Regions from separate parts of the Homo sapiens genome. Here region 2 is linked to region 1. The links come from fine-mapping of genetic effects on gene expression. Tissue or cell type: thyroid. Region 1 holds a variant in brackets; the other region holds the start of a gene. All regions are shown on one strand. Distances are from middle to middle.

Region 1 (8,107 bases):
GGGTTTCACTATGTTGGTCAGGCTGGTCTCGAACTCTTGACCTCAGGTGATCCACCCACCTCGGCCTCCCAAAGTGCTGGGATTGCAGGCAGGAGCCACCTTGCCTAGCCTATAATATTCCTTTGTTCTTTTTTTAATGTCTAGAGGACCTGTAACGATATGCCTTCTATCATTGCTCATATTGGTAATTCCAGCCTCTTGCTTTTTTCTTAATCTACAGATACTGATATTTATTGTTTCTTGTTTATTTTAAATTTTATTGATTTCTGCATTTTATGTTTTTTCCCTCTACTTCCCCTTGATTTAGTCTGCTTTTTTTCCCCGAGCGTCTTGAGGTGGACATTTATGTCTTTAATTTTAGAACTCTCTTATTTTCTAATACAGGTGCTTAAAGCTATGAATTTCCTTCTAAATACTGTTTTAGCCACATCTCATAAATTGATTTCTTCTTTTCATTCAGTTCAAAATATTGTTTAATTTCTTTTGCAGTTTCTTTTTTGATCAGGGGTTATTTAGGAGACTATTATTTAATTTCTAAATACTGGAGAATTTTATATAGTATCTTTATGTTAATGATCTCAAGTTTAATTCCATTGTAGTCAGAGAACATGCTGCATAATTTATATTCTTTTTTTTTTTTAAGATGGAGTCTCGCTGTGTCACCCAGGCTGGAGTGCAGTGGCACTCCCCATCTCTACTAAAAATACAAAAGTTACTCACTGCAACCTCCACCTCCCAGATTCAAGCAGTTCTCCTGTCTCAGCCTCCCGAGTAGCTGGGATTACAAGCGCACACCACCATGCCCGGCTAATTTTTGTGTTTTTAGTAGAGATGGGGTTTCATCGTGTTGGCCAGGCTAGTCTTGAACTCTTGACCTGAGGTGTACGCCTGCCTTGGCCTCCCAAAGTACTGTGATTACAGGCGTGAGCCACCGTGCCCAGCCAATTTATATTCTTTAAAATATTTCCATGCTTGTTTTACGGTCCAGCATATGGTTTATCTTGGTGAATGTTCTATGTGTGCTTGAAAAGATGGTTTATCTTGCTGTTGTTGGGTGCAGTGTTCTATAAATAACAATTATGTCAAGTTGGTTGATAATGTTCTTCAGATCTTACATATTTTTAATAATTTTCTGTTTACTTGTTCTGTGAATTATTGCATCAGTGAGGAGTGTTGAACTCCCTGTGATTGTGGAGCTGTTTATTTCTCCTTTCAGGTATGTCAGTTTTTGCTGCATGCACTTTGATACTCTCTTGTTAGATGTACACAGTCATAAGTAATTTAACTAGGGGGATACATTCTGAGGAATGCATCATTGGGCAATTTCTTTATTGTGCAAGCATCATATAGTGTACTTACATGATCCTAGATGGTGTAGCATGCTACTCTTGTAGGCTATAGCCTATAGCCTATTGCTTCTAGGCTACAAACCTGTACAGCATATTACTGTACTGATACTCTAGGCAGCTATAGCATAATGGTGAATATTTGTGTATCTAAACATAGAAAAGATACAATAAAAATACGGTATAAAAGGGCCGGGAACCAGGCACAGTGGCTCACACTTGTAATCCCAGCACTCTGGGAGGCTGAAGTGGGTGGATCACGAGGTCAGGAGTTCGAGACCAGCCTGGTCAACATAGTGAAACCCCATCTCTACTAAAAATACAAAAATTAGCCTGGCATAGTGGTGTGTGCCTGTAGTCCCAGCTACTTGCGAGGCTGAGGCAGGAGAATCACTTGAACCTGGGACACGGAGGTTGCAGTGAGCCGAGATCATGCCACTTCACTCCAGCTTGGGCAACAGAGTGAGATTTCATCTCAAAAAACAAAAAAAAAAAAGGCCAGGCATGGTTGCTCACACCTGTAATCCCAGCACTTTGGGAGGCTGAGGCAGGCAGATCACTTGAGGTCAGGAATTTGAGGCCTGCCTGGCCAACATGGTGAAACTGTGTCTCTACTAAAAACTCAAAAATTAGCCTGGTATGGTGGTGGACGCCTGTAATCCAAGCTATTTGGGAGGCTGAAGTAGGAGAATTGAACCCAGGAGGCAGAGGTTGCAGTGAGCCGAGATCACGCCACTGCACTCCAGCCTAGGCGACAGAGTGACAGAACACAACAGAACACAGAACAGAATGGAACGCAGAACAGAACGGAACACAGAACAGGACAGATATGAAAGATAAACGTGGTACACCTATAATAGGGCACTTACCACGAGAGGACCTTGCAGGAGTGGAAGTTGCTCTGGGCGAGTCACTGAATGAGGGGTGGTGAATGAATGTGAAGGCCTAGGATATTACTGTGCCCTACTGTACACTTTATGAACAATGTACAGTTAGGCTACACTAAATTCATCAAATTTTTTTCTTTGATCAATAGTAAATTAGCTTATTGTAACCTTTTGACTTTAGAAGCTTTAAAATGTTTGTTGTTTTTTGACTCTCGTAACAACACTTAAATACAAACGCATTTTACAGGTGTACAGAAATATTATTCTTTAAATCCTTATTCTGTAAGCTTTTTTCTATTTAAAAAATGAATTTTTTTTTTAGAGATAGAGTCTCGCTATGTTGCTTAGGCTGGCCTCCAACTCCTGGGCTCAAGTGATTCTCTGGCCTCAGCCTCCTGAGTTGCGTGCCACTGCATCTGGCCTTTTTTTTTCGTTTTTCTTTTTTTTTTTACTTTTTAAACTTTTTTGTCGGAAATGAAAACATAAGCGCACACATTAGTCTAGGGCCCACACAAGGTCAGGATTATCAATATCAGTGTCTTCTACCTTCACGTCTTGTCCTACTGGAAGGTCTTCAGGGGCAATACTCACGTGGATCTGTCTGGACTACCTCCTGAAGGAAACTGCCTGAGGCTGTTTTTAGGTAGCTTTTAAAAAACATAAGTAGAACGGTGACTCTCGCCTGTAATCTAAGCACATTGGGAGGCTGAGGTGGGACGATCGCTTGAGCTCAGGAGATTGGGACCAGCCTGGGCAACACAGTAAGACCTCATCTTAAAAAAAAAAAGTAAGTAGAAGGAGTGCACTCAAATGATGTTTAAAAGTATGACATAGGTTGGGTGTGGTGGCTCATGCTTGTAATCCCACTGCTTTGGGAATCTGAGATGGGCGGATTGCTTGAGCCCAGGAGTTTGAGACCAGCCTGGGCAACATGTATCCACCGTTAAATTATTGTGAGAAATAGTTTCACCTCCATGAGATTATTCTATTTCAGCTCTTAAGCCCTTTCTGCCTTTCCCCAAGCCCTTGGCAACTACTGTTTTGTACTATTTCTATAGTTTTGCCTTTTCTGGGATGTCTTATAATTGAAATCATATAGTATGTAGCCTTTCTGGACTAGCTTCTTTCACTTAGCAATATACATTTAAGGGTCCTTTACATCATTTTGTGGTTTGCTAGCTCATTTATTTTTATTGCTAAATAATCCATTGTATGGATATATTCCAGTTTGTTTATCCATTCACCTGTCAAAGGACATCCTTGGTTCCAGGTTTTGGTGATTACGAATAAAGCTGCTTATAATCATTGTGTGCAGGTTTTGTGTAACTATAAGTTTTTAAATCAATTTGGATAATCAAATACCTCAGCAATGTGATTGCTGGATCATATGGTAGGCCTGTATTTAGCTTTGTAAGAAACTGCCAAACTGCCTTCCAAAAGGGCTGTTTTATTTTGTATTTCCATCAGCAGTGAATGTTAGAGTTCCTGTTCGCATTTTCATTCGTATTTGGTATTGTCAGTTTTTTTGATTGTAGCTATTCTAATAGGTGTGGATTGGTATCTCATTGCTATTTCTTTCTTTTTTTTTTTTTGTTTTTGAGACGGAGTCTCCATTTGTTAACCAGGCTGGAGTGCAATGGCGAGATCTCGGCTCACTGCAACCTCTGCCTCCTGGGTTGAAGTGATTGTCCTGCCTCAGCCTTCTGAGTAGCTGGGACTATAGGCGCATGCCACCATGCCCGGCCATTTTTTGTATTTTTAGTAGAGATGGGGTTTCACCATGTTGGCTAGGCTAG[T/A]CTCGATCTCCTGACCTCATGATCCACCTGCCTCAGCTTCCCAAAGTGCTGGGATTACAGGTGTAAGCCACCATGCCTGGCCTAAGTTTTTCCTTTTTAAAGTTAGCTTTATTGAGATATAATTTACACACCATAAAATTCACCAATTTAAAGGGGGGTATCTTGATGTTTTCCAGTAGATTTACAGTTTTGCAATCATTAGCATAATCTAATTTTAAAGGATTTTAATCACCCCAGAAAGAACCATTGTATACATTAGCAGTCACTCTCCAATCCCTCTCTCCTGGACCCCTAGCCCTAGATAACCACTAATTTATTTTCTGACTTTATAGATTTACCTATTTTGGACATTTCATAGAAATGAAGTCATACAATATGTGATCTTTTGTAACTGGCTTCTTTCATTTAGGATAGTGTTTTTCAGGTTCACCTATGTTGTAGTATGTATCACTCCTTCATTCCTTTTTTAAAAAATTCTGACAAAATTAACATAACATGAAATTTGCCATTTTAACCACTTAAAATATGTAATTCAGTGGTGTTCGGCACATTCACAATGTCATGCAAGTATTACCACAAACTAAATGTTCCCAAACGTTTTCATCATCCTAAAAGGAAACGCTGTACCCGTTAAGCAGTCTCTCCCCATTCCCAGTCTCCTAGTCCCTGCTGCCCAGTAATCTGTTTTCTCTCTCTGTGGATTTGCCTATTGTGGATATTCCTACAAGTGGACTTAGGCAATGTGTGACCTTTTGTGTCCAGCTTCTTCGACTTAGCATAATGCTTTCTAGGTCCAGTAGTACTTCATTCCTTTTTATGGCTGAATAATACTACGTTCTATAGAAACACCACATTTTGTTTATCATGACTTGATAGGCATTTACATTGCTTCTACCTTTTGGCTATTCTGAGTAGTGCTGCTATGAATATTTACATACAGATTTTTTTGTTTGTTTTTGAGACGAAGTCTAGCTCTGTCACCCAGACTGGAGTACAGTGGCACAGTCGTCGCTCACTGCAGCCTCGACCTTCCAGGCTCAATTATCTTCCTGCCTTAGCCTCCTGAGTAGCTGGGACTGTGGGTTTGCACCACCACATCTGGGTAATTTTTAAAAATTTTTTTGTATAGTCAGGGTCTTACTGTGTTGTCCAGGCTGGTCTTTTTTCTTCTTTTTTTGAGATGGAGTCTTACTCTGCCGCCCAGGCTGAAGTGCAGTGGCGCAATCTCGGCTCACTGCCGCCTCCGCCTCCCGGGTTTAAGCGATTCTCCTGCCTCAGCCTCCTGAGTAGCTGGGATTACAGGTGCACACCATCACACCTGGCTAAATTTTGTATTTTGAGTAGAGATGGGATTTTGCCATGTTAGCCAGGCTGGTCTTGAACTACTGACCTCAGGTCATCCACCCACCTTGGCCTCCCAAAGTGCTGGGATTACAGGCGTGAGCCTTCTCGCCTGGCCTGCTTGTTTTTAATTTGTCCTATCTCTTGTTTGTTCCTTTTTGGATTACTTGAGTATATTTTAGTATTCCATTTATCTTCACATTGGCTGATTAGCTATATGTCTTGATTTTTAAAAGTAGTTGCCTTGGCCGGGCGTGGTGGCTCACACCTGTAATCCCAGCACTTTGGGAGGCTGAGGCGGGAGGAGCATGAGGTCAAGAGATCGAGACCATCCTGGCTAACACAGTGAAACCCCATCTGTCCTAAAAATACAAAAAATTAGCCGGGCGTGGTTGCACGTGACTGTAGTCTCAGCTACTTGGGAGGCTGAGGCAGGAGAATCGCTTGAACCCGGGAGGTGGAGGTTGCAGTGAGCGGAGATCGTGCCACTGCACTCCAGCCTGGGTGACAGAGCGAGACCCCACCTCAAAAAAAAAAAAAAAAGTAGTTGCCTTAGGGTTTATAATATACACCTTTAACTTTATGTATAACCTGGGACTCTTAATTCAGTACAGTTTCGTTCTCCCCATCTGTGTCTAATTTTCCTCACAAAGGGATAATGCTAGACCTCCCTTACTGGGTTGTTATGAATATGAAATGAATTACTAGATGTGAAATACTTTGAGCACAGCTCATGTTTTTATTCATATCAAGAATAATAGAAAAAAACTTTATTAGAAGTTCTTCAGTTTGCAGATCGCAGGTTTCTTTTCTAACCTACCTTAGCTGTCTGCATGCATAATCACACCCTAGACTAGTAGTTCTCAATTCTGGCTGTATATTCTAAATGGGCAGCTTAAAAAATATTGATAGTAGTGGGCCACCTTCAGAAATTCATATTTTATTGGTCTGATTTTTTTAAAAAAGTGTTCCAGGGCCAGGTGCGGTGGCTCACGCCTGTAATCCCAGCACTTTGGGAGGCCGAGGCGGGCAGATCACGAGGTCAGGAGATCGAGACCATCCTGGCTAACAAGGTGAAACCCCGCCTCTACTAAAAACACAAAAATTAGCTGGGCATGGTGGGAGGCACCTGTAGTCCCAGCTACTCGGGAGGCTGAGGCAGGAGAATGGTGTGAACCCGGGAGGCGGAGCTTGCAGTGAGCCAAGATGGCGCTACTGCACTCCTGCCTGGGCGACAGAGTAAGACTCAGTCTCAAAAAAAAAAAAATGTGTTCCAGGTGGCTCCAATGTATAGTCAGGACGGAGAACCATTACCCTAGACTTTATCACCATGATCTGTAACTTAAAAAATTGTAAGCATTGGGCCGGGCGCGGTGGCTCACTCCTGTAATCCCAGCACTTTGGAAGGCCGAGGCGGGTGGATCACGAAGTCAGGGGTTCGAGATTAGCCTGGCCAACGTGGTGAAACCCCGTCTCTACTAAAAATACAAAAAACTAGCCAGGCGTGGTGGCATGTGCTTGTAATCCCAGCTACTCAGAAGGCTGAGGCGGGAGAATCGCTTGAACCCAGGAGGTGGAGGTTGCGGTGAGCAGAGATCATGCCATTGCACTCCAGCCTGGACGACAGAGCGAGACTCCGTCTCAAAAAAAAAAAAAAAAATTGTAAGCATCTAACTCTGACCTCCACTTCCTTTTCTACTAACTCACATACTCCAGTACCCTATTTTGATATTTCTTGGAATCCAATTTTTTTTTTATTTTTTCAGTTCTCTCACTGGACATTTCTTGGATTCCATCAAGACCTCCAGGCCAGTAGCTACGCCATTTTTTCACTGTCCATCATTCTCCTCATATATTCTCTTCTTAACTTATCCAATTATATTGATTCATTTAATAAAAATTTCAGTAAGTATTAGTGTTCTGTATGTACCATTCTGTGGTGTTGAGTGATAAAACTCTTGTTCTTCTCTTCCTTCATTGTAATCAAGGCAAAACTTCAACCCCGATTACACTCAGTTCTTTGTCAACTCTGTAATTCCTTGAACCTGAGCAGTGGAGTGTGGCTGGAGAAAACAAATACGCTAGCTCGTCTCACTTTAAATTTATGACCACACATATCTATTGTGCCTACACCATTGCTGTGTCTGCTTGTCCTTCTACTTTGTTTGCTAAGAAGACTATGTAATCTCTTTCCTTCTAGACTCTTAGCTGTTTTTTAGAAAATTATTATTATTTTTTATAATAGAGATGAGGTCTCGCTATGTCAAGCAATCCTCCCACCTTGGCTTCCCAAAGTGTTGGGATTGCAGGTGTGAGCCACTGCACTGGGCATGTTTGTTTGTTTATTTATTGATTTAAGTATTGCACATAGTGTTTTTATTCTCTGCAGCGAAAATGATTCCTACTTGCAGACCACTTTTTTTTTTTTAAGCCAACTCATCTATGTTCATCTATGTTGTGACTTCTTGTGTATTTAAGGATTTTGCTTCTGGGTTATCTTCGATATTTTTGTTTTTGTTTGTTTGTTTTATTTTTATTTTATCTAGACCTGCACATCCCCTGTATTATTTTTCCTGGCGAATCATTTTTCTTAGCATATGAACATGCTATAACTCTTAATTCTCTAACTTCAATAGGGATGGCAAAAGGAAAAAAACAAAAACAGCTCATTTCTCACACACACCTTTCCTTCTCATTTATAGCAAAATTTGTCAGAAAGAATTGCTCATTCTCAGTA
Region 2 (8,107 bases), 140 kb after region 1:
TCTTGGGTGCTTTGGTCCTAGGTTTCTTACCTAAAAATTCAAAGGACTCAATCATTTCAATATTTGTTTTGTTAGAATCCACATCTACTTTAAAAACATCAGAAATAAACGTAAGCTTAACAGCATCTATGAAAACCTATAATGAGGCCTTTAAAATCAAATCAGAACTATTCTAAAATGCTTTTTGCCCCTCCACAGAAATCTAGAAGATTGGTTAAATATTATAAAAATATAAGGGAAACCAAGTCCTGAAAAATAACCAGGCTAACTTTTACTACCTTCCAGTTTTACTAAAATACAGTGGCATTATGTTAATATATAACTGTGCATAGTTAATTTGTCTGTGAAAACCACTTAACACATTATCTACATAATCATCCTGCCATACTTTTAAATTTGATGTAAGCTTGCATCTCTATTTCCTTTGACAATTCCTGCCAATTCAGGGGTAACGTTAACTATTAACATCAGATTAGGTGGCATGTTGTTAAAGTATCTTCATTAATCTGATCTGTACTCCAAAACTGCTCATGGATTACAGATCTGCATTGGAGCATAGGCCTTTTCAGATGTATTTGTTTCATGGACACTTTGTAGGAGTTAACTGCCTTAGGCTAAATGCTCAGATGTTCAGATTCTGCTAAAATGTTAAGCCTCCTACTATAGACATAAGAACCATCTAAAAATACCCATCAACCAGACCACGCTTGTATTATACGGATTATTTCCAGGGCTATGATTATGGGCAACTGCCACCTATTTGTCAATTGCTTTTTTTTTTTTTTTTGCAACATCAGCTTCATAAGGGTAGGAATTTGTCTATACTGTATTCTCAGCACCTTGAACAGTACCTGTGCTCAAGTAAGTGTAATTACTGACTTAACAGACGTATACTATCTATGCCATGTATGTTAAGTCACACCAGTCCTGAAAACCAAAATCCAGAGAAATTCTTTCAAATTTTGTCAGGAAAACCCAACCTTGACTGACATGCTGTTTATTTAACATAAATATCCCCAAATTTCACCACAGAAATATTGCTATTTGAGGTCCTCACTGGTGAGTATGTTGTCTACTATATGGACAAAAGTTCTTAAAAGGTAAAGCTCCAAAATCCCTAACACCTGCTCCCTAGTATTCTGAGTAAGGTCTCTAACTTCTAATTCTCACAACTCTTAACTATTGTTATCCATATCCTACAGATGAAACAGAAGTTTAAAGCAACTTCTTTTGTAAGCCAAAAAATAATTTTGGGCTGGGTGTGGTGGCTCACGCCCATAATCCCAGCACTTTGGGAAGCCAAAGTGGGAGCATCACTTGAGCTCAAGGGTTCAAGACCAGCCTGGGCAACAGTGTGACCTCATCTCTTAAAAAATATTAATAATTTAGAACATCTGATATAAAATTACAAAGTGTGTGGTGCTAATAGTCCCAGAATTCTCAAACATGTGACTCCTAAACCAGATAGCAATGACCTTAAAGTCAGGTTATTTTTGGATAATGTATACATCAAAGATTCACAAGCAGATTTTCAACGAAATTACTGCACTCTACAAGGCACTGGATATAATAAGCAAGGATTAACACCAACTGGGTATGCTGGCCACCCCCAAATATTTTCTGTAAAAACTCCAAGTGAATAGTGCTAAGGCCTTCCAAAGGCACATATTTATCTTCTGATATGCACACAAAATGATAGACAAATTACCAAAATTAAGCAAGCCCTAATTGCATAATCCCTCCTACCTTCTTTATTTAAGGGCTTTCTTACAACATACTGGCGGACATCATCTTCTTTAGAGAGATTGAAAAGTTTGCGGATTCTGCTAGCTCTTTTGGGGCCCAGGCGGCGAGGCACTGTAGTATCAGTCAGTCCAGGAATATCCTTCTCTCCTTAGAAGAAACAGTTGAAGAGATTTTAATTCAACAACTTCCTTAAGAATCCTAAATCAGAATGTTTAATGTTGAATTGATGGTAGAGAAACAAATCCATTGGTCTGTAAGTCTGGATACTGCAAATGAATAAGCATTTGGACAACTGGCTTTAAATCAATTTCAACGAAAATTGAACACAAGTAACCCTCACCTTTTTTTACAATAACCAAGTTGAGAACGCTCAGATTTGCATCCACAATGCAACCACGAACTGATTTTCTCTTTCTTTCTCCAGTTCTCCTTGGTCTGTAACAGGAATGCCCCTTACTCAGTAGCAGGCGGACACGGCCATGGGTCAAGACACCCTGCTTCATGGGGAAACCTTGTTTGTCGTTCCCACCACTGATTCGGACCACATAACCCTGCAAGAGCATACAATGAATGACACATTTACTATTTCTATTCCAAAATTATACAGTACAGGATTGTGACCTCTGTGAACACACCTATATGAGAAAGTATAATTATGAAAACCAATTTGAACTTAAGCACGTTTTCTCTGTTCAGTGAGTTTTGTCTATATTCCCAACTTGTCAAGTTCAATTATCAAATGTCTTTCAAGTCGCATTTCTAACCGATGTTTTATTAGAGATAACAGCACTAAGAAGATAAAATATCAAACAGCAACAAACAAATCAGATACAACCCTTTTTGGCACTTTGGGGATTATGAGGACAGCTATGTGACATATTGCCAAATGCATGATGCAGGGCAAGAATTATGTTGATGTAAACTTTACGTATATTTTATGGCTTACTCTACGTCCCCCCCTCCAAGGTAATACCTCTAACTTTATAAAGTGGCATTCGGAAGCAACTTACCAAAGGTCAGAAGCCAGAACCCGGAGTCTGAACCCCATTCCAAATACCAGTTACCAATGGCGTTTACCGTCTCTGACTTAAATACCTGCAACAATTTGTCAACTTTTACCTTCCATTCTTCACCCAGAGCGTCAGCAGCAACTTCTGTGGCCATACGCTTCTCATAGAAAGTACGAAGTTTGCGTTCATCGTCCACTTCAATGAGTTTCTGGCAGCCAGTGGCTGGGAAGGAGATGTTCAGCTAAGGATTAAAAGGGGGGAAATAGTTTACGAAACTATCTATACAGGTAATTGTAGAGCCATCTACAAAGTTAATTCCACTGCAAAAAGCCTTTCATGTTGCCTCCACACAAGCAGGAAATATAAGATGCCGACTGTACTCACTAAAAGCACGTGAAAGCAGAGTAGCAGTCAAGAAGCGCCGCACTCAGCAGGACGTTTTCCCCTCAAGCCCCGCGGAATGACTCTGGGGGCGAGGGCACTCCGCAGCCGTTCACCCTCCCGAAGCAAGAAAGCCGGGGTCAAGAGCCGCACCACAGGCCTGCCGCAAACTGGGCAACACGCCGCATCCGTCCCGGCTGGGCGCGGGGACGCCACCATGGCGCTCCCGGCCCGCCGCGGCTCCAGCCGCAATCGCCTGCCATCCGTTCGGCCAAAAAGCTCCATGCCCCAGAAAGGCGAGCCTTCTCCTACTTGAGACCCTTCTCCACCTAAAGCCAGGATCCTGGAGTGCTGGAACTGAGGCAATGCCGCGTTCTGGGACTCGATTCACGTTCCCCAAACCCAGTCTAACACTCGCCACCATCACCTACCTTCATCTTGAAGCAGCTGAACGCCTCCGAGGCGCCACGGAAAAGAGGGCCAACTTCCGCTTAGCGCAGGTCACATAGGCGCTTTCAGTTCTCGCGAGATGAGCAGAAGTACGGGATAGCGGAAGTGAGCATGGGTGGGCGGTACTTCCGGGCGAGATTAATCAGGGCCTGGGAGGTAAAGTCGGTTGGGTGTGGGTCTGAGGTTGTGCCAGTGGTGGTAGTCTGGTAAGGCAAACCCGCGTGTAATTCTGAGGGCTAACCCCTTCCCTGTCTAGTCTTTTCCACGCTGCCTGGGTTTTGGAGCTGGGCGCCAGCGGAGCCCCACTTCTGTCCCAGGCACTTTGCATCTGACGGTACCAAAATAGGAGGGCAAGGCCGGGCGCGGTGGCTCACGCCTGTAATCCCAGCACTTTGGGAGGCCGAGGCGGGCGGATCATCTTAGGTCAGGAGTTCGAGACCAGCCTGGCCAACATGGCGAAACTCCGTCTCTAATAAAAATAGGTAAAATAGCCAAAAATAGGTAAAATAGCCAGGCGTGGTGGGGGGCGACTGTAGTCCCAGTTACTAGGGAGGCTGAGGCACGACAATCGCTTGAGCCCAAGAGGCGGAGGTTGCAATGAGTCCAGATCGCACCACTGCACTGCAGCCCAGGCGACAGAGAGAGACTCCGCCTCAAAAAAGTTCGAGTTCGAGACCAAGTAAACAAGAATAATTTTTACTATCTAAAACTATCACATACCATCTCCCCACTTTAGTGTCACAAAGGTTTGAGTTTAGGACTGTTTTACATTCGAAGTTGAACGATTCTACTGAATCCTCTTTGATCATCTCACATTAATTCATGGAATCTTGGTGAAATGATGCTTTTTAAAATCTGAGTACTGTGTGTCATTTTTTTGTTGAGGTGAAATTGACATAACTAGTCATTTTAAAGTGAACAATTCAGTGGCATTTAGTACATTCACAATGCTGTACAACCACCATCTCTATCGATACAGTTCCAAAACATTTTCATCATCCTAAAAGAAAACCCTGTACCCTGTTAAAGCAGTTGCTGCCCCTTCCCCATTTCGACCAGGCCTGGCAACCACCAATCTGTGTTCTGTCTCAGTGGATGTACCTACTTCATAAAAATGGAATCATACAATATTGACCTTTTGTATCTGTCTTCTAATCTTTTGAGTCGTAGCATGTATCAGTACTTCACTGCTTTTATGGCTCAATATTCTAGTGTAGATATAGACTGCAGTTTGTTTATCCATTCCTCCATAAATAGACATTTGGGTTGTTTCTGCCTTTTAACTACTGTAAATAGTTCTTCTATGTTTGAGTACTTGTTTTAAATTATTTTAGGTATATACCTAAGAGTGAAATTGCTGGGTCATATAGTAGTTCTATTCTCAACTCAGGGAGAAACTGAAACTGTATTCCAAAGCAGCTGAACCATTTTACATTCCCACCGGCAATGTATGAGGACCGCACTTTATCAAAATCATGGCCAACACTTGTTATTTTTTTAATTTTTTAAAAATTTATTGTAGGGACAGGGTCTCGCTTTGTTGCTCAAAGTGAGATCCTGTTGGTCTGGAACTCTTGGCCTCCAGCATCCTCCTGTCTCAGCCTCTGGAGTAGCTGAGACTCATTGTGGTTTTGATTTGCATTTCCCTAATGACTAATGATGTTGAGCATGTTTTAATGTGTTTGTTGGCCATTTGTATATCTTCTTTAGAGAAAAGTCTGTACAAGCTCTTAGCTCCCCCTGTTATTTTTATTGAAGTAGTGGGAGTAAATTAATGTGAGGCAAAGAGAAAGTCTAGAACTATGGGCTAGTTTTTTTTGTTTGTTTTTCCTTTTAAAAATATTTTAGGGTGGCCAAATGCAGTGGCTCACACCAGTAATCCAGACGCTTTAGGACGCTGAGATGGGAGGATCTCTTGAGGCCAGGAGTTTGAGATCAGCCTGGGCAAACATAGTGTCACCCTGTCTCATTTAAAAAAAAATTTTAATGCGTTTTTAATTGTGGGTAAAAAACATATAACACAAAATGTATCATCTTAACCATTTTGAAGTGTACACTTCTGTAATGTTAAATATATTAACATTGTTGTAAAATAGATCTCCAGAACTTTTTCATCTTGCGAAATGGGAACTTCATACTCATTAAACAACTCCTTTCCCCCTACCCACGGCTTTTGGTAACCATTCTACTTTCTGTCTCTATGATTTTCACTAAGCATCTCATATAAATGGAATCAAACAGTAGTAGTTGTCTTTTTGTGACTGGCTTATGTCATTTAACATAATGTTCTCAAGGTTCATCCATGTTATAGCATGTGACAGGATTTCCTTCTCTTTTAAGGCTGAATAATACTCTGTTGCATGTATATACTACATTTTGTTTAACCATTCGTCTGTCAATGGACATTTTGGTTGTTTCCACCTCTTGGCTGTTGTAAATAATGCTGATATGAACATGGGTGTGCAAATATCTCTTAGAGACAGACCCTGTTTTCAATTCTTTTGGCTATCTATCCAGAAGTGGGACTGCTGGATCACGTTAGTTCTATTTTGAATTTTTTGAGGAACCTCTATACTGTTTTACATATGGCTGTACCAATTTACAGTCCCACCAACAGTACACAAGGGTTCTTTGCCTTTTTTTTTTTTTTTTTTTTTTGAGATGGAGTCTTGCTCTGTCGCCCAGGCTGGAGTGCAATGGCACGATCTCGGCTCGCTGCAACCTCTGCCTCCCGGGTTCAAGCGATTCTCCCGCCACAGCCTCCTGAGTAGCTGGGATTACAGGTGCGTGCCACCATGCCTGGCTAATTTTTGTATTTTTAGTAGAGATGGGGTTTCACCATGTTGGCCAGGATGGTCTCAAACTCCTGACCTCAAATGATCCTTCTGCCTTGCCTCCCAAAGTGCTGGGATTACAGGTGTGAGCCACTGCACCTGGCCCACACTCTTAATATAACAGAATATTTAATTACATCAGTTTCCCATCAACCTACCAAAGTCATTTAATAATTATATTGGCCATTTCCACTGATTGGCAGGAGTCTCTCCCATGGTTTCCACTGCATCATTTTTCTTGCCAGACTTAGTTCATTTTTAGCCTGCAGAATCGCCTCTTCTATTTGACCACCTTGAAGTTGGTCTTCTGATTTTTTATTTTTATTTAATTAATTAATTAATTAATTTTTGAGACAGAGTCTCACTCTGTTGCCCAGGCTGAAGTGCAGTAGCATGATCTCGGCTCACTGCAACCTCCACCTCCTGGGTTCAAGCGATTCTCCTGCCTCAGCCTCCCAAGTAGCCAGGACTACAGGCATGCACCACCATGCCCGGCTAATTTTTGTATTTTTAGTAGAGACAGGGTTTCGGCATGTTGGCCAGGCTGGTCTCAAACTCCTGACCTCAGGTGATCCGCCTGCCTTGGCCTCCCAATGTGCTGGGATTACAGGAGTGAGCCACTGCGCCCGGCTGGTCTTCTAATTTTTTAACATCTGGTTCTGCTTTAACCATAGCCAGTGTCTCATTTGTAATCTGTTCTGTATACTTTCTATATGCTACATTTTTAGGGATTTGCTCAAGAACATAAAAAAATCTTTGTATACAATATTCTTAGCCTCTCCTGTGGACTCTCGCATACAGCCAATCCCACAAGGCCAGTGGTCTCTCTTCAGCACACCCGTCATGACTCTGGCTAATTGAGAAAAAAAAAAAAAGATTTGTGTGTGTGTGTGTGTGTGTGTGTGTGTGTGTGTGTGTGCGTGCGCGTGTGTGTGTAGAGATAAGGGCTCCATATGTTGCCCAGGCTGGTCTTGAATTCCTGGCCTTGAGTGATCCTCCTGCCTCAGCCTCCCAAAGCATTTGTCCATTTTAAAATCGGGTTTTTTAATATATATTCAGGAGACTAAACTCTTATTAGATACGTGATGTGCAAATATTTTCTCCCATTCTGTAGACTTTTCGCTTTCTTAATAATGTTACAGTTTTTAATTTTAAAGCCCAATTTATATAATTTAAAAATTGTTGTAGATCATGCTTTTGGTTTCATTTAAAAATACGTTGCCAAATCCAGTGTCATAAAGTTTACCCCTATGTTTTAAAATCTAATCTTAAAGACTTACCCTATGTTATGGTCTTAGTTTTTATATTTAGGTTATTGATCCGTTTTGAGTTTATTCTTAAATAATTGTGTGAGGTTGGGACTCCAGCTTAATTATTTTGCAGATAGATGTCCAGTTGTTCCAGCACTATTTGTTGAAGAGACTATTCATCCCTCATCGAATGGTCTTGACACTCTTGTTGAAAATTAATTGCCATAAATTTATAGGTTTATTTCTGGACTGTCACTTCTATTTCCATGGTCCATGTGCCTATCCTTATGCCAGTGCTATAGCTTTGTAGCAAGCATCAAAATAAGGAAGTAAGAGTACTCCAACTTTGTTTTTTTTCAAGATGGGTTTAGTTCTTAAGGATCCTTTTCAATTGCACATGAATTTTAGCATCAGCTTGTTCATTTATGCAAAACAT

What was found. PIP is the estimated chance that this variant, and not a neighbour inherited with it, causes the effect.
Region 2: RPS6 starts here. The variant in region 1 is fine-mapped to the expression of RPS6 in thyroid (GTEx, PIP 0.97).

What each region holds. Positions count from the first base shown.
Region 1 is chr9:19,238,843-19,246,949 of GRCh38, forward strand. The region is part of intron 1 of DENND4C (DENN domain containing 4C); the gene reads left to right. Among named protein-coding and RNA genes, the nearest start is that of DENND4C, 12 kb to the left of the region's middle. The variant T/A (reference allele first, on the strand shown) is at 4,030.
Region 2 is chr9:19,376,622-19,384,728 of GRCh38, forward strand. It overlaps RPS6 (ribosomal protein S6), which reads right to left and starts at 3,615. Exons shown (of 6, transcript NM_001010.3): 1 at 3,569-3,615; 2 at 2,866-2,997; 3 at 2,087-2,297; 4 at 1,747-1,893; 5 at 1-30. The coding sequence starts at 3,574. It also overlaps the pseudogene NDUFA5P3. RefSeq lists an enhancer at 2,930-4,129.